Homo sapiens: one gene and its partners. The protein of the gene in region 4 purifies or fractionates together with the protein of the main gene of each other region. This does not show direct contact. Each region holds a gene or a part of one and is shown on either strand. Other genes may lie near its edges.

Evidence for each region.
Region 1: the proteins of PCDHB6 (region 4) and ST7L purify together in Homo sapiens (affinity purification with mass spectrometry; one large-scale study listed by BioGRID and IntAct). This does not show direct contact.
Region 2: the proteins of PCDHB6 (region 4) and TMEM131 purify together in Homo sapiens (affinity purification with mass spectrometry; one large-scale study listed by BioGRID and IntAct). This does not show direct contact.
Region 3: the proteins of PCDHB6 (region 4) and PWWP3A purify together in Homo sapiens (affinity purification with mass spectrometry; one large-scale study listed by BioGRID and IntAct). This does not show direct contact.

Annotation. Positions count from the first base shown.
Region 1 is NC_000001.11:112,528,642-112,532,418, reverse strand, and holds part of ST7L (suppressor of tumorigenicity 7 protein-like), read left to right. Parts: intron 1-2,253; exon of another isoform or gene 2,254-3,777.
Region 2 is NC_000002.12:97,989,449-97,993,225, forward strand, and holds part of TMEM131 (transmembrane protein 131 precursor), read right to left. Parts: intron 1-3,777.
Region 3 is NC_000019.10:1,361,182-1,364,958, reverse strand, and holds part of PWWP3A (PWWP domain-containing DNA repair factor 3A), read right to left. Parts: intron 2,710-3,777; coding exon 2,608-2,709; intron 451-2,607; coding exon 380-450; intron 1-379. UniProt on the Homo sapiens protein: Involved in the DNA damage response pathway by contributing to the maintenance of chromatin architecture.
Region 4 is NC_000005.10:141,148,711-141,153,194, reverse strand, and holds the start of PCDHB6 (protocadherin beta-6 isoform 1 precursor), read right to left. Parts: upstream 3,139-4,484; 5' UTR 2,938-3,138; coding exon 553-2,937; 3' UTR 1-552. UniProt on the Homo sapiens protein: Calcium-dependent cell-adhesion protein involved in cells self-recognition and non-self discrimination. Thereby, it is involved in the establishment and maintenance of specific neuronal connections in the brain.

The sequences.
Region 1 (3,777 bases), on a different chromosome or scaffold from region 4:
GAAGCCAGAGCTCATGCTTTTACTCCCAGGTAGCAGCAGCTTTACAATTAAATTTTAATCCGACAGTGTTGTTAGACTCCTATCAAGAGTACAGCCACAGCTGTTCTTGGCAGGCAAATACATTGCTGGTTTTCCTTCAGTCACAGTGAGATAGAAAAATGTTCTCTGTCTAGGGTGTGGACGAAGGCACTTTACTAATCTTATGCATAATTCATCCTTGGTTGCTGGGGCACTCAAAGTTGAAACTTTGCCCTCTGATAAAATTCAGCTGGATGTTTTTTATTTATTAGACTCTGATCCCTTTAGGGGTTTAGCCCTTATTGCGAGCCCAGGGATTCTAATTTGGCTAAGCCCTAGCTGTGAAGACTTTTCTTACTAATTTGCCCTTGGTGAATTTTAGCTCTTGTAATACCACCTTTAAAAAACAAAAAACAAAAACTGCAGTAGAACATGCAGTTCAGAGAGTCCTGGATAACCTGAAAAGAGTCTTCTTTGAATGTTGGCTTATTGAATGGAAGGACTCCAATAGGGCCTGTCTTGATTTGTTTTCAAAGTTTAGATTTGTAAAGAGCCTCAGCAAATTAAAACATGGTTTTAATTGTCCTATAACATGCTAAAATATGGTAATGATTGTCCTATAACATATAACAGGTCTTTGCATTTCAAATTCATTGGGTACCTGTGAAGTATAAAATATAATCCCTGTTCATAAGTAACTCATAGTCTAGTGGTAGGGGGTTTGAGATGGGCATGAAGATGTATTAGTATAAGGTGGAAGCTATTGCCACAATAGATGAGTTCATCCTTGAATATTCATTTATTTGACTGGAAGGGAATGGTGAGTTATTTTCACACGGCTCCCGTAAGATATAGTGACCCAAAAGGTCAGTCTAGACTAATAGATTATGCTTCCTTTCAGAAGAATTTATTCGGTTAGGTCAAGCAAGAACATATAGAAAGAGATATCTTTATTCTTTTCCAAATATGTGATGTGGAGTACTTTCATCTTTATACTCAGCAGCTGGAATTCATCTTTTTGTAAGCAGTGTTATTTATTATAATGTTTATATGAATATAATTTATCAAAAAATGGAGAGCTCCACAATTCAAAATTTAAGAAATGTCTCACCTCAGATTCACAGAGTAATTGCCTTAGACAAAAGCTCTACACTCATACATTTTATATACCTCTTTTATATCCTCTCATTCCTAATAATGACAGATTAATAAGAACTAATAGCCATCCTGGTTTTCAGTATGAAACAATGTGATTTCATGTGAAGAAGAATAGAATAGTAAGAGTTAGGACCAAAATTACTTAGTTCTTTGGGCATGTGAGAGAATAGGAAAGAGCTACCCAGAATTTTCCAGAGCTCACTTGATAATGTCAAGAGCTGCAGCTGGCAGTCACTGATTCTGAAAATAGGCACACATCATGTTAATCAAAAAACTAAATAAAAGGATATTGGGATAAGGCACTAAAATAAAGTTCCTTTTGCCCTTTCTTTATAGCTGGGTTTTGCTGATCAATTCTGCATTTTTTGGCAATTCTACCTCTTTACAGGGAGAACCACCAGTATTATTTTCTCTTTAAGTAACTGAAAAAATATTTCCTATCTTTATTGAGCTGTCTCATTAAAGTAACAGACTAGCTGGATCACTGGGGATATGACTTTGGGATATATGTTTTAAAATAGGCACAGAGGCTGGGTGCGGTGGCTCACTCCTGTAATCCCAACACTTTGGGAGGCCGAGGTGGGTAGATCATCTGAGGTCAGGAGTTTGAGACCAGCCTGGCCAACATGGTGAAACCTTGTCTCTACTAAAAACACAAAAATTAGCCTGATGTGGTGGCAGGCGCCTGTAATCCCAGCTACTCAGGAGGCTGAGGCAGGAGAATTGCTTGAACCTGGGAGGCGAAGGTTGCAGTGAGCCAAGATCACGCCACTGCACTCCAGCCCTAGTGACAGAGCGAGAATCCATCTCAAAAAACAAACAAAAAGGCACAGAACCTCTCCTTGAGTTTATACAAATTAGGCATGTAATCAGTAAATATGGTAAAATATGGTAAAATGTAATCAGTAAATATGGTAAAATGGTAGAAGAGCAGGCCCAAGGCTAAATTCTAAACTACTCATGCAAATATTATAATAATACTAGAGAGTTGTAGAATGTACTGATTAAACTAGTGTTGCAGTAGAAGAAAGGAAGATAAACTATTTGAACAACAACTTGGAGGCAGAAAACTGGGGATTCGGCTTTGGAATTTACTTTATTGGTAATTATTACTTCTCTAGCTTGTCGCTCACTTCTCTGAGCTTGTCACACCTACTGGAATAAGCAGAAATTGTTATTCTTTGCCTAGGTTAACAAAATACACATCTCCAGATAGTAAGTTAGTTGCATGATGGCATCTTCTAATTCAGAGGTCTGATTTGTAGCATATTGGTAAGGAGGCACATTCATATTTCTGGGTGGTAGGGAGCCCACTTTCATCCATTCATCTGCATTCCTGTTCAAACTAGCAACTGTGTCTGCTAACATTAGGTTCCCAGAAAAAAGATGTAAGTAAACCCCAGTTCCACTGAGCTCCTGTGAAGGTACCACCTCCATAGAACTTGGTTGAAAATAATGAGCATAGTTACCTTTTTTTTTTTTTTTTTTTTTAACTTTTATCTTTTGGATGGCATTGAGAGTAACCTTCTGTTTTTTTGGCCTCAAGTTCCATATTGAATTTTTTAAAATTGCATTTTGAGCAATAACATTTCCCTGGTTGCTTAACCAGTTATACAAGTTGAGACTTCTGTCTCTATGCCTATCTTATAATAGCTTCTCTGGGAGAACAGATGAAAAATAAGCCAGTTAGATATTTTATGAGTATTGAAATCCTTTCCATTCAGAAATGTAAATAAAACAACCAGCATGAGCAATCAGCTTATGTCAGATTCCATGGGTTTGTATTACATAGGGAAATTACAGTGCAACCTGAAACATGCTTCTTAATGAATTCATAGTGCTGTCACAGTTGAATGTAAACCCTTGAGCTTTTCTTTTGTGAAGGGTTTCAGAAATCACCCTTTATAAACTACCTAGGGGAGGGAAGAGAACTAAGATGATACTAACAAATGCTATCACTGGTTTTGTGGCTGCCTCCCTTACAGCACCAAATTTTGCCAGTTAAGTAAAGCAGAAACCTAGAATATGGCACACGTTTTGGCTTATTCAGTGTACACACACACACAAACACACAAACACACACACACTCAGTGCCACACTGGGTCAGACCCATAGTTCAATACTCTGTTTCTGAAAGTGGCACCAGGGAACTGCTTTGGAAGAATAAGATTGCCCTTATGGTTTTTATCCTCAGAAGTTAGGGAAGTTTGGTTAAGAAGTATGACAAAAGCCCCATAAGTAGCGATTTTTACCTTTAGCAAATGCAGGAAAATAGACACCTAACTAGAGATCATGAAGTTAGAATTTGTCTCCTTCTTTGGCTGCTACTTCAGCCCCTGGTAGTAAATTAGAATAAAGTTCCTCATTTATTAGTGAGCTGGTTTTGCAGTCTCTAAAGCTCTTTTGCAGCTCTTCTATTCACTATGGCCTCAGATACGATAAATCTGCTAGCTGCAAAAATTCAATATACCAAGTAGAATATGTAGGACCAGTCAAGTTTTAAGTTTGGGAGTGAGGAAAAGCAGCATGTATTTTCTATTTTAAATTATTTTCTTTTCACATTCTAATTTCTTAAGGGTTTGGCTTGATTTATGCCAGGTT
Region 2 (3,777 bases), on a different chromosome or scaffold from region 4:
CTGGGGGTGGGGATTAAGGGTAGGGAGAGAAATAGGAAGTTGTTTAATGGGTATAGACTTCCAGCTTTACATGAAGAAGTTCTGAAGATCTGCTACACAACAACGTGAATACACTTAACACCACTGAACTGTACATATAAAAATGGTTAAGTATTTTGTTATGTGTTTTTTTCACCAAGTTTCTAGAAAATAAATAAATGAAAATAAATAAAAACGTAGGTTTCATACTCTATCATGACTGACCATCTAAAAGATCCTCTTAAACATCAAACCTCTGCCCTAAAACGGCAGAGTTGTATGCAACAAAATCAATCAGGCAAATGGCAAAGGCTTTCTAGAAACCCTCCATCTGTGGTTTTAAAAGTAATCACATGGGAATTAAAAAACAACAACAACAAAACAGATTTGGAACTACAGATGAGAACTAATGACCACCTAATTCCAAAATGCCCTAATAAGAACAAAGCACCTTTGAACTTCTTCTGGAGCCCTTGGACCTCTAATGGAAGTCTGCGAGAGATTTCTGCCTGCCGAGGCAAATGCCACTACCAGCCCTTGCATTATCTCCAGCTCCTGTTAGTCCAGGGCCAGCTTCTGAGAATATTCCACAAGTCTAGACTAACTCATCACACCAATCTGGAGCTAAGCAGTATCTACAGAAGGCAATATTGCTTAACCTTAGCAATACAACCAGGTATCTAAGTCATCAAGAACAAAGAGACAGTAGCTTCGAATACCAAATATTCATTTCCCTGTATTATCCACTCACTGGTTTCCTTTTAAGAACCTTCATGATCCAGAATGGCCTGTGATTACTTAAACTGTTAACAAGTCAACAGAAAGTGATATGAAAGCTTGTGGCTGATTGAAAAAAAAAAAAAGTACATTTTACTTGAATACTAATACATGGGTTTTGCATGAACTGTCAAGTCTGTTCTTTTTGCAGTTGGTACAATATAACAAAATCTAATTCCTGAAGTGCTCATTTGGGGTTACATAGTTTGGCTCAAGGGACAGATGTCTTAGGGCGGAATCCTGGCTCCACTATTTACCAGCCCTATCACGCTGGGTATATTACTTAACCTCTCTAAGCCTCAGTTTCATGATCTCTAGATTAGGGTTTTATGAGAATCTGAAAATCTTAAAATCAAAAAGTTATAAAAGTGATGGTTTAGATAAGTGTATACAACTCCTTTTAGTTACAAGGAAAAGCAACATGTGGGGAAGAAAAAACTGGTGTTACTCAATGTCCTACTATAGCAGACTTCCTCATGACATCTGCACCAGAACTGAATTTTACCTGTACTTCTGACTCTCAGGTTCTCAGGTATAAAAAGTCCTATGCACTTTTTTCATATGCTTTGTAAATAGTTTTGTACTGTGTTTTGCACCTACGTCACAAATACAGCTTAAAACAAAAATTTGTGCATGAAACTATAGTACACTGGCAAAAAATTTTAAAAGTCCTAATAAAGGCTGTCAAACGTTACTCTGCCATTTAATTGCCAATTGATAGAACATGTGACTATGAAATTTAAATTGTCATAGGTTGAAACACTCTTGAAAATTTATTCGAATTTATATTTACTAGATACATAAACTATAGCTTCTCATTTATAATAAATTAAATGCCTTCCAAAAACCCACTTCACAATGAAATTATATTACAATGAAAGTTTAGGCAAACTTTCAATCAAAACTGAATGCCTGCTATTTATGTACTACAGATGTTGACAAAGGTTCTGCCCTACAGAAATTCCAGCCTAGGTGAAGAATGACACCCCTGAAATCATTTAAGTAGCTAACAAGGCAGTACACAATTAGGTGTCAAAATGAATGATGAATGATTAACAAAGACCACAAATTCAGAGGGAGCATGCAGGACTGAACAGAAATGGCGAAAGGCGGTAGGAGAGAGGCTGCTGCAGTGCCCCATGGTGAAGGCAGTGGGAGAGTGATCAAAAGAGGATGTAACAGGCACTGATGCCACTTGGTGAAGGGTCAAAACTGAATCCAGTGGGGCAGGCAGAATAATCATAGCATTAATAAAAAACTGAAAACTGGAGGTGGCGCAAGATAATTCTGCCCTGGACACATGCAGTGTGCACCAGCAGCTAGACACACACAGGGAGGAAGACAACCAACAGGCAATTGGAGAGCAGCAACTGTCAGCTAGGGCACAACCAGAACCGAGAAGTACAGAGTCACCGAAACAATGCCAGATGCTGCTTACAAGAGACCGTAGGGGAAAATTCAGCTGTAGGAAAAGGGCCTCTTGGTCTGGCAAGGCCAATCAGAGCGCTTGAGTCACATATAGGCAAGAGAGAGAACACCTAAAATATCAAGCACCTAGCAAAGATTTTATTTTCCTCCAAGAGTAATTTGGCTTATTGCTACTCTGGATAGTAACAATTAGATGAGTTTACATCTACTCCCAAAGCAATCTTGTTGGCAGATGTCTATGAGGGTCCACTGTAAGAATTAGAAGGAGGAGGAAAATGGTCATTAGCAAGAGGAAAAAAGGACACACTTTTTCCAACTACAAAACTCCAATGCTCCATCAGGCAACAGCCTTTAGTAAAAGCAGGCTACAAACGTTCATTAGTGAAGCACTTATTAAATAACATTCTATTTACAAGGCCCTAAATTAAAAGGTACCCACTCTACCCCATACAAAGGGTTAACACATCTCACTCTTAAGAAAATCACTTTCAAAAACATTTTAACATTATCGAGTAATAAGTAGGTTAAAAATAGTTTGGTTAAGAAAAAGTAAATAACACTCCTAGTCAATTTGGCTACCCTTAGAAAACTATTAGATTCTTATCTGTTTTCTTGTGGTCTTTAGTCCTATGCACTTTTCTCATATGCTTTGTAAATACTTTTGTACTGTGTTTTGCACCTATGTCACAAATACAGCTTAAAACAAAAATTTGTGCATGAAACTATAGTACACTGGCAAAAAATTTTTAAAGTCCTAATAAAGGCTGTCAAACGTTACCCTGCCATTTAATTGCCAATTAATAAAACATGTGACAATGAAATTTAAATTGTCATAAATTGAAACATTCTTGAAAACTTATTCGAATTTATATTTACTAGATACATAAACTATAGCTTCTCATTTATAATAAATGCCTTCCAAAAACCCACTTCACAATGAAATTATATTACATGATATATAATGCTTTTTTAAAAAAGGTCTTATTTGCCAGTCATAATGGGCTGCTTTATAATTCAAAAGACTACTAAAAGTATACATTTAATATATACACATACACATGTATTTTCACTATATATTTTAAAAATATATTTTCACAACTCACACACATTTTTGCTATTCTCAGTATCTAGATGTTAGCCTCAAGACAAAATCTTGCCACCAATCTAGAACTAGTTATTTGTAGTGATTATAACAACTTCTATCTCTGGAAACTCTTTCAAAGTCCTTACAAACTTTACATCACAGCCAAAACCATCTCAAAGGTACCTTTCCTCTGGACTAGTGATAGCACACTCCCATAGCTCAGTTAAGTCATATAGGATGTTAAGACAAGGAATGGTCCATGCTTCTGACTCAAGAAAATCAACATCAAGTCCAAACATGAAAAACTACATTAGGTAATTTATTTCTGCAGCTTTTCTTCAGGAGACAATGAGTTTTATTGTCTTTTAAAGATTTTGCAGTGAAATTATACAGTAATGAAGGAAAAGAAATACAAACATACAAAATACCTGCAGAATCATCATTAAAACTGCAGGTAAATCTTAACTTTG
Region 3 (3,777 bases), on a different chromosome or scaffold from region 4:
TTAGTAGAGTCAGGGTTTCACCATGTTGGCCAGGCTGGTCTCGAACTCCCGACCTCAGGTGATCCACCCACTTCGGCCTCCCAAAGTGCTGGGATTACAGGCATGAACCACTGCACCCGGCCGCAAATATTTTTTTCGAGTAGGTCTTTCTAAGCCTGCTTGGTGAAAATGTGGCCTATCAACTTAACACCATTGTGCCTTAATTTAGGTACAGGCATCTCCTGAAGTCTTTTCTAAAAACCCACCAACTTTTCCCAGGAAAAACAAAACAATGAAAACATTTATCCTGATCAAATTATCAAGAACTAAAGATGGATGGAATAAAAATTCATGAAATTTAAGTAACTACATCTGAGAAGACGGAGGAAGCTGTTCTTACCACTGCTGGCCAGAAGGGGTATTTTTTATGTTTATGCCAGACTAGCATTCCTACTTCAAACGAACGTGGTTCTAGAATTAAAGAAAAAAGAAAAACAAAAAAAAAAGAATAGACAAGTCAAATCCATATCAAGCACCAGGTGTAACAGCCTGAGAAAACACAGTTAGCACGATATTGTTAAAACCTGACTTTGTGTCATTCGCTTAAAAGATCAGGAGAATCTGAAAGGCAGATTCACATACCCCACACTACTTGAGTCTAACCACCAATGATGAGACAGTGAAACCAGCAGCTGAGTGGGGTGCTGCACTGGGTTCCCAGCTGCGACAAACGCACCCTTGGGATGGGAGGGGTGCCACGAGGGGCGGCTGGGGCTCTGTCCTATGTGTGCGCGACTTTCCTAACTCTAAACCCCGCGGGAAGACACTTTTAAAGAGTGTGTGGCACAAAACAGAGGTGAGGTAATGGCACGCGGAGAAGACCCAAACACAAGGACTGAGATTCTAAAGAGGATTCTGGGAAACTACAGTCAAAAATGGGAAAATTATTTAAATCATAACTAGAAACTATTTATGAATGAAATATTTTCAATGCCAAAAAACAAGTGAATTATTTAAAATTTTAAAACTAAAGTATTAGAAAAACTACTGGAAACAGTCTGTCGTTAGACACACAAAGCCTGTGTCTGACCGCACTGTGGAAGGAAGGAAGTGCCGTGGTCCATAAACACAGATCAAAACCTAAAGGCCTATGAAGTAACCAACGTGACCAGAGAAAAAGGGAGGCCCACTGGGGTGAGTGTCTGCTGTGAACATGGCACAGCGTCGTTTCCCCAGTGAGGGGCATTTAGTCTTTAAGAGAAACTTCCAGGCCCACGTGGACAAACAATCAATTCAGAGGCCGGTCAGGGAACCCTCAGAAAGACGCCCAGCCTGACAGGTAGAAAACAAAACCAAACGGGAGCAAAACCCAGCTCCCACCGCAGGCAGGAGAAGCCAGGCAGCACCAGCCTCTGTATGTCCCGGTGACCCAACCCCAGTGGGGCAGCGTGGTCGGAAAGGGCCCTTCCCGAGGGCACTGTGCTCTTCGTGTGTGCGAACGGATCCTGCAGAAATGATTTCCTGGAAGTCCCCAATGGGTGCCCCACAGCACCTGCGGTCCTGGGACCATCCAGACAGGTGCCCAATGGGTGGGGCAGGGTTTGGTGAGTGGTGACTGCTCACCCCAGAGGAAAAGGATCAGAAGAGCATGTGGAAAACTGTTAAAAAGTCTGACCATTAGCATTAGGCAAAAAAAAGGGAAAATGTGAGACTGTAATGAAGCCCTTTCAATGATGGAAAAGCACTCAAACAGTGTAGACAAAAAAAGAACGACATAACAAGGCCACCGGCACGCAAGTGTGCGTGGAATGGCGCTCCCGAGGCTGCACACGCACCAGCTTCCTGGCCGGGGACATCCTGCGCCTTACGGATGCTGCCAGTGGGGAAGCCCGGGTGAGAAGCCCCCTCACCTCCCTTTACTATTTTTGCAACATCCTGTGAATCTATAATTATTCTGAAACTAGAAGGTTAAAGAAAAGAAAAACAAGACTTGGTTAAGAGGAATGGTTCACGGGCGAGTCTCAAGTGGGGCTGGTTCTTGTGACTTGGTTTGCGAAGCCGACTTTCTGTTCGCGGCTGGCTCAGATCTTTGGGTCTCTCATTTCTAGTCCCTTCCACGTAGATGCTCAGGGGCACCTAAAGGCAGGTTTTCCTCTAGTGCAAGCAGCTACTTACAGGAGGGGCGCGGGAGCAGTTCACTCTTGGGCTGAAGGCCCTGCCTCCCTGGACAGCCCCCCAAACGCCATCACCAACGGAAGCCGCGAGACAGTACGTGGCCACACCCGAGCAATGGCGACGCAGCCCCTCGGCTCACTGGGCCATCCCTCACTCCCCGCGAGGGGACAGGAGGACAAGGGCTTGAGGTAAGTGACAGGAGTAATGCTCTAACAGGGAGGGCTGGGCCGTCTCTTCCCAGGAGTCTCTCGTCCCTTTGTGTAGGTTATTCTTAAGATAGAGGACTGAAAACGTGACACTTCTGAAGGTCCCTTCCAGGTCTCGGTTCAGTGGGAGAGAAATGAACTCGCAGGAGACCTTTCATGGAGAATGTGGGGCCCGGTCTCGGAGCCCCGCCGCCGCTGCCTCTGAGCGCACCGTTAGGACTGCCGGCGCCCCCTGATCATTTCTTACCGTGGTATAAAAGGACTCTTGGTGGCTCCTCGTCTTCCTCGTCTTCCTCCAGGATAGAACGCATGGAATTAGACCCCATGGACTCTTCGGAAGACTGGCACTCTGCCAATAATGTGATATTAGACTTTCATGGTCATTGCATTGTCTTGATGACTCATCCCAAGAAAACATTTCATGACACATGACCATCGATGCATAAAGAAAAGGTTCCATGCTATACACAACTCCACACTGCCAAATTCAAACAGAGTGCGCTTCTAATAAACTACATTTTAAAGAAAAACGCAAGAGGGAAGGAGGGAAGGAGGGAAGGAGGGAGGGAGAGAGGCCTGCGGTGAAGGGAAGGCGGGCCGTAAGCAGCAGCCACCTCGGCCACAGAAGCTGCGCGCACCCTGGGTGGGAATCCCTTTTGTCCCGGCCTGGCTGTCCCTTCACATCTGAAGCAATCAGTGGATATGCAGGGAGGGGGCCAGGACAGGAGCTGACTATAGAACAGGGTAGGGGTGCGGATACGCAGGGAGGGGGCCAGGACGGGAGCTGACTATGGAACAGGACAGAGGTGCGGATACGCAGGGAGGGGGCCGGGACGGGAGCTGACTATGGAACAGGGTAGGGGTGCGGTCACTTTGTCTTCAGAGCGTGGCAACCTCAGTTCCCTGCCGCTTCCAACGTGCTAAGGAGATGATGACCTCAGGAAAGAAGTTCAGAGTACAGACTGAAATATCTGCGCGGTAAGTTTGTAGCAAGTAGATTTCCAGACATTTGATCATGTGGTAATTAAGATTTCTGAACTAGCATTTAAAAAATAAAGGATGCTACAGTGTTAAAAGGAAAAAAGTCACAGTGCTTGCCTGCAACCACACAAAAATATATCTGCACAGGAATTCTTTAAAAAGTCAGTCTTTTGAGTGAGTGAATCACTTTTGAGATTGCTGCCCAATTTAATAGGAATGCGTTACTGCTTCCGTTAAAAGAGTTAATCCTCGGGGTGCAGCCGCAGCTGCGGCCTCAGCACAGCCACAATGCTCCCAGCCGCGCCGCAGACAATCGTGGCCCGCCGCCCCTCTACGGGCTCCCCACTCACTCAACTCCCTTCCCTTCTAAACAAAAATAAGAAGACAAATATTTAGAAGTTGAAGCAATTATAGCCCAGTGGGGAGACAGACAAAA
Region 4 (4,484 bases):
AACTAATGTGTTGACACTTCAGTAAAGTCTATAGTCACAAAAATTTTGGATTGACTATTATGGGATACTAAAATATGCATAAGTATGAATGGCTACTTTAGTGTTTAGCCATCATTAGTTCTTATTTTTAGTGTTACACACTGTAGGAGTTACTGCAAAATGAGACATTGGAGGATTAAATAATATCAGATACTCACATTTTAAACAGTCCTACATAGCAATAGTGAAACAACTCTTACCAATAGCTAGAAATACAATTTTACTTAAGGATTTACAATACTTTTTTTTGGGGGGGGGAAGAATAGATAATTTAATTTCAAAAGCTTAAAATTATGCAAATAAAAATTTACTTTTTGTTCATATTGTCAAGTACCCTCAAGTGAAGTAATAAACTACTAAGCATGAACAGGAAATACTAAGATACCAGTATCTTACTTTATATAAAATTTCAACCTAAAGAATAGAGGTAAAATAAACAAGAAACAGACCATGTAACTTTAAGTTAAAAGAGATCTCCAAACATAAGTAAGATTTAGTAAAATAATCCCACACTTAACTGAACGGGAAGCTATTCCGAGAGGTGGGGGTTTCTTCCATTTCTCTCTCAGTGCCCTGAGGAGGGAAGTTGGGCATAATCGGCTTCAGGAACTTGAACTCATTTGTTTCTGAGCCTCCCGTCAGACACACCTTGTACTGGTAGCTCTGGGATAGGGTCCCGGTGCCGCTCACATCCACCAGATGCCCTGGAAAGGGACCCTCGGGCACCGAGTAGCGACCCACCGAGGCCGCCCTGCTCCTCCTGCACAGCCGCACCGCCACGAACAGGAGCACCGAAAAGAGGAAGAGCGACGACACCGAGGCCAACGCCACCACCAGGTAGACGGTGAGAGAGTCGGCCTGGGCTTGGGCCGGGGCCGCCTCAGGGAGAGGCAGGTAGGGCTGGGAGAAGCCGTCCACCAGGAGCACGTGCAGCGTGGCGGTGGCCGAGCGCGGAGGCTCGCCATTGTCCTTGACAAGCACCACCAGCCTGTGCTTGGCTGCGTCTCGCTCGCTCAGCAGCCTGGCGGTGCGCACCTCGCCATTGTGCGCCCACACGCCGAACAGACCGAGCTCCGTGGCCTTGAGCAGCTGGTACGACAGCCAGGCGTTCTGGCCCGAGTCGCCGTCCACCGCCACCACCTTGGTCACCAGGTAGCCCGGCTCGGCCGCCCGGGGCACCAGCTCGGTGCAGGGCGCGGAGCCGTTCTGCAGCGGGTACAACACGAAGGGCGAGTTGTCGTTGGCGTCCAGCACCAGCAAGCGCACCAGCGCCTCGCTGCTCAACGCCGGGGAGCCGCGGTCTGTGGCGCCCACGCGGAACTCGAAAGACTGCAGGGCCTCGTAGTCCAGCGACCTGAGGGCAAACAGGTGGCCGTTGTCCGCGTTGATGGAGACCAGGGAAGAGAGGGGCAGGTGCGGGTCCTGGGGCGGCAGCAGCGAGTAGGTGACCTGGGCGTTGATGCCTGAGTCTCTGTCTGTGGCGCTGACGCTGCCGATGTGCAGGGCGGGGCTGTTGTTCTCGCGGACGAACAGGGTGTAGGAGGTTTGGGTGAAGGCGGGGGCGTTGTCATTGACGTCGGAGACCTGCACAGTTATGCTCTGCTGGGTTTTCAGCCTTGGTGTCCCCAAATCAGTGACCGTGATAGTGATGTTGTACTCGGCTCTGCTCTCTCTGTCCAGCGCGCCTTCTGTTACCAGGGTGTAGAAATTCTCCACGGAAGGTCTTAGTAGAAAGGGGAGATTGTTCTCTATTGAACAAATAACCTGTTGGTTATGTCCAGAGTCTGCATCTGAAACACTGAAAACTGCCACTGTGATCTCTGGTAAGTTTTCTGGGATGAGGCTGATGAAGAACGACATGGTGAGTTCAGGGGCATTGTCATTCACGTCCAGGACCCTGACGACTAAAGAGCATTTTCCTGATAGGCCTCCACCATCTGTAGCCTCAACATCCACGTCATAAGACTGAATTTCCTCAAAATCCAAAGCCTTTCTCAGCCGAATTTCTCCTGTGATTGCGTTTATTTCGAAGGGTTGGTTGACGTCATCGACTTGAAACAGGGCGTAAGATACCTTCCCAAACGATCCTGCATCTAAATCTCTGGCTGAGACGGTAATAACCAGAGAGCCGAGGGGGTTGTTCTCAGGGACTTGTGCTTCATAGAGCTCCTGAGCAAACTCGGGGACGTTGTCATTGATGTCCAAAACCTGGATCTGAATCTCGGAGGTCCCTGACCGGGGCGGAGACCCGCCATCCAGCGCGATCAGCGTTAGCCTGAGTTGGGGCTGCTCCTCGCGGTCCAACGGTTTGTCTAGCACCAGCTCCGGGAACTTCCTGCCTTCGCTGCGATTGCGGGTGAGAACGTGGAAGTGAGGGTTGGAGCTGATTGTGTACCTCTGAAGGCCGTTGCTGCCGGTGTCTAAATCGTGTGCCATTTTCAAAGGAAATATCTTTCCTGGCATAGTAATTTCTGATATTTTCAGGAGCATTTCTCTGGCAGGGAATTCCGGGGCGTGGTCATTTATATCTCTGACTCGCAAGGAAGCCTGAAAAAACTGCAAGGGGTTTTCCAGTAACACTTGGAAAGGTAGCACACACGGCTCAGTGGAGCCACACAGCTCCTCCCGGTCCAGTTTTTCATTTAGCAGTAAATCATGGGTCTGTGGATCAAACTGCAAATGTTGTCTGTTCCCTTTGAAAACAACCCGAGCGCCCCGCGAAGCCAGCTCCCCCACCCTCAGTCCCAGGTCCTTTGTCAAGTTGGCCACAAACGTGCCACTTTCTGTCTCCTCCAATACGGAATACTGAATCGATTCAGAACCCACCTCTCCCCAAAGCATCAATAAAATGAAGAAAGCCACTTGCCTTTTCTTGTTCTGTACTTTAGTTTGCATCATGTCTATTATGTCTGAATACGGAAGAAAAATCCTTTTCAGCTCCCAATCACCACATCTACCGTCGACCCTCTCGGATGTCTTTGCAGAGATTTTTAAATTCGTTCTTACAACTTGTCTGGCGACGACTGCCTTCCCGGACACATCTATCTCAGCTTTAGCTGTAAACGTGGTCTGTATTTTTACTTGGCTTCTGGATGAAACGGAGTCCACCGAGTCTGCAGAGCTTTCATTCACTCTCTTAGCTTGTACCGCCACCACGCGTTCAAACTAATAACTTCATGAGATGTTTTCAGGTCAATAGCATTTCAGAAATCTGAGCATTATAAAGACTTTTAAGTCGAGTCAGTGTTTCTCAAACTGAGTGCGTGGACCGCATGCATAAATAATTGCTTGCGAGCGTTGGTTTTTTTGTGTGTATGTTTTTGTTTTTAAGCCAATTCCTGGGTTCACTCCCCTCTAGAACTTGAATCAAATTCCCTGGTGGTGCTAATTAAGGAGAAAGATTGAAGTGCAGATTCTACACTTCAGTCTTTCTCCTTTGATGCTTCAGCAGTGCAATTTATCTCTGATGAACTATTTAATCTATTAGTCCAAGAGGTACACTATTTAATTGTCCCAACAAACAATGCAAAACAACGAAGTTTGTTAGCAACAATAATGGTAAAATAAACAATAAATTATCTAAATTATATGACTCATAAATGGCATGAAAAAAAAAACCTACTTTGTTATATAGTTATGCCTGCACAGTAAAAAGAACAATTAGGCTATTAGGAGGAAAACTGAGGCCAAGAAGTACGTATGATACATGTATCTAAGTAAATTAAAGTATTTAAAAGAGGGACTAGAAGCAATCAAGTAGTTGTCATAAGCATTTTAGGATTCTACTCCATTTTTGCATGGATAGAATTAGACATTGTTTTAACAGTCTTGTGCATTTTATTTTTTGATCAAATTCCCCTCTTACATTATTTAATCAAGGTCCAAATATATTACCGTGTTGTACAAACATGATGCAACACAGAAAACAAACATTCAAGAATCACCTTCACCGTCTTCTCACAGCAAAAAGAACACCAAGTCCAATAAATACAGGCCAAATTAAGGTACTGTTAAAACAGGTGAGTTACATTTGAGTGAATGCCATGGAATTCAATGATGGAATATTATGGCTATATCCATTCCCATCTCACTAGTTTCTACTCAGATACATTGGAACATGTATCTCTAAACAAACTGAAAATGTGTGAAATAGATTAGTGCACATAGAAGAGGTAAAATATGCCAAACAATTCAATTCATTTCAGATTAATTTCATATTTATTGAGAGGTGAAATCAATTGAGTTCAAACAAAGTTCACTTCAGGTAAGGGCCAAGGTGATAGAAGATTAAAAATCAAGATATTTTCAAATACATAAATGCTAGGCAAAACAAATAAGGCTAAATAAAATCTAAACTCTGAATAGCTGAGATGATCTTGTAGTTCAAAATCACCTCTATGTAGCCAGAAAAACAAAAGATTATGAATGTGACCAGCCTCCAGGGT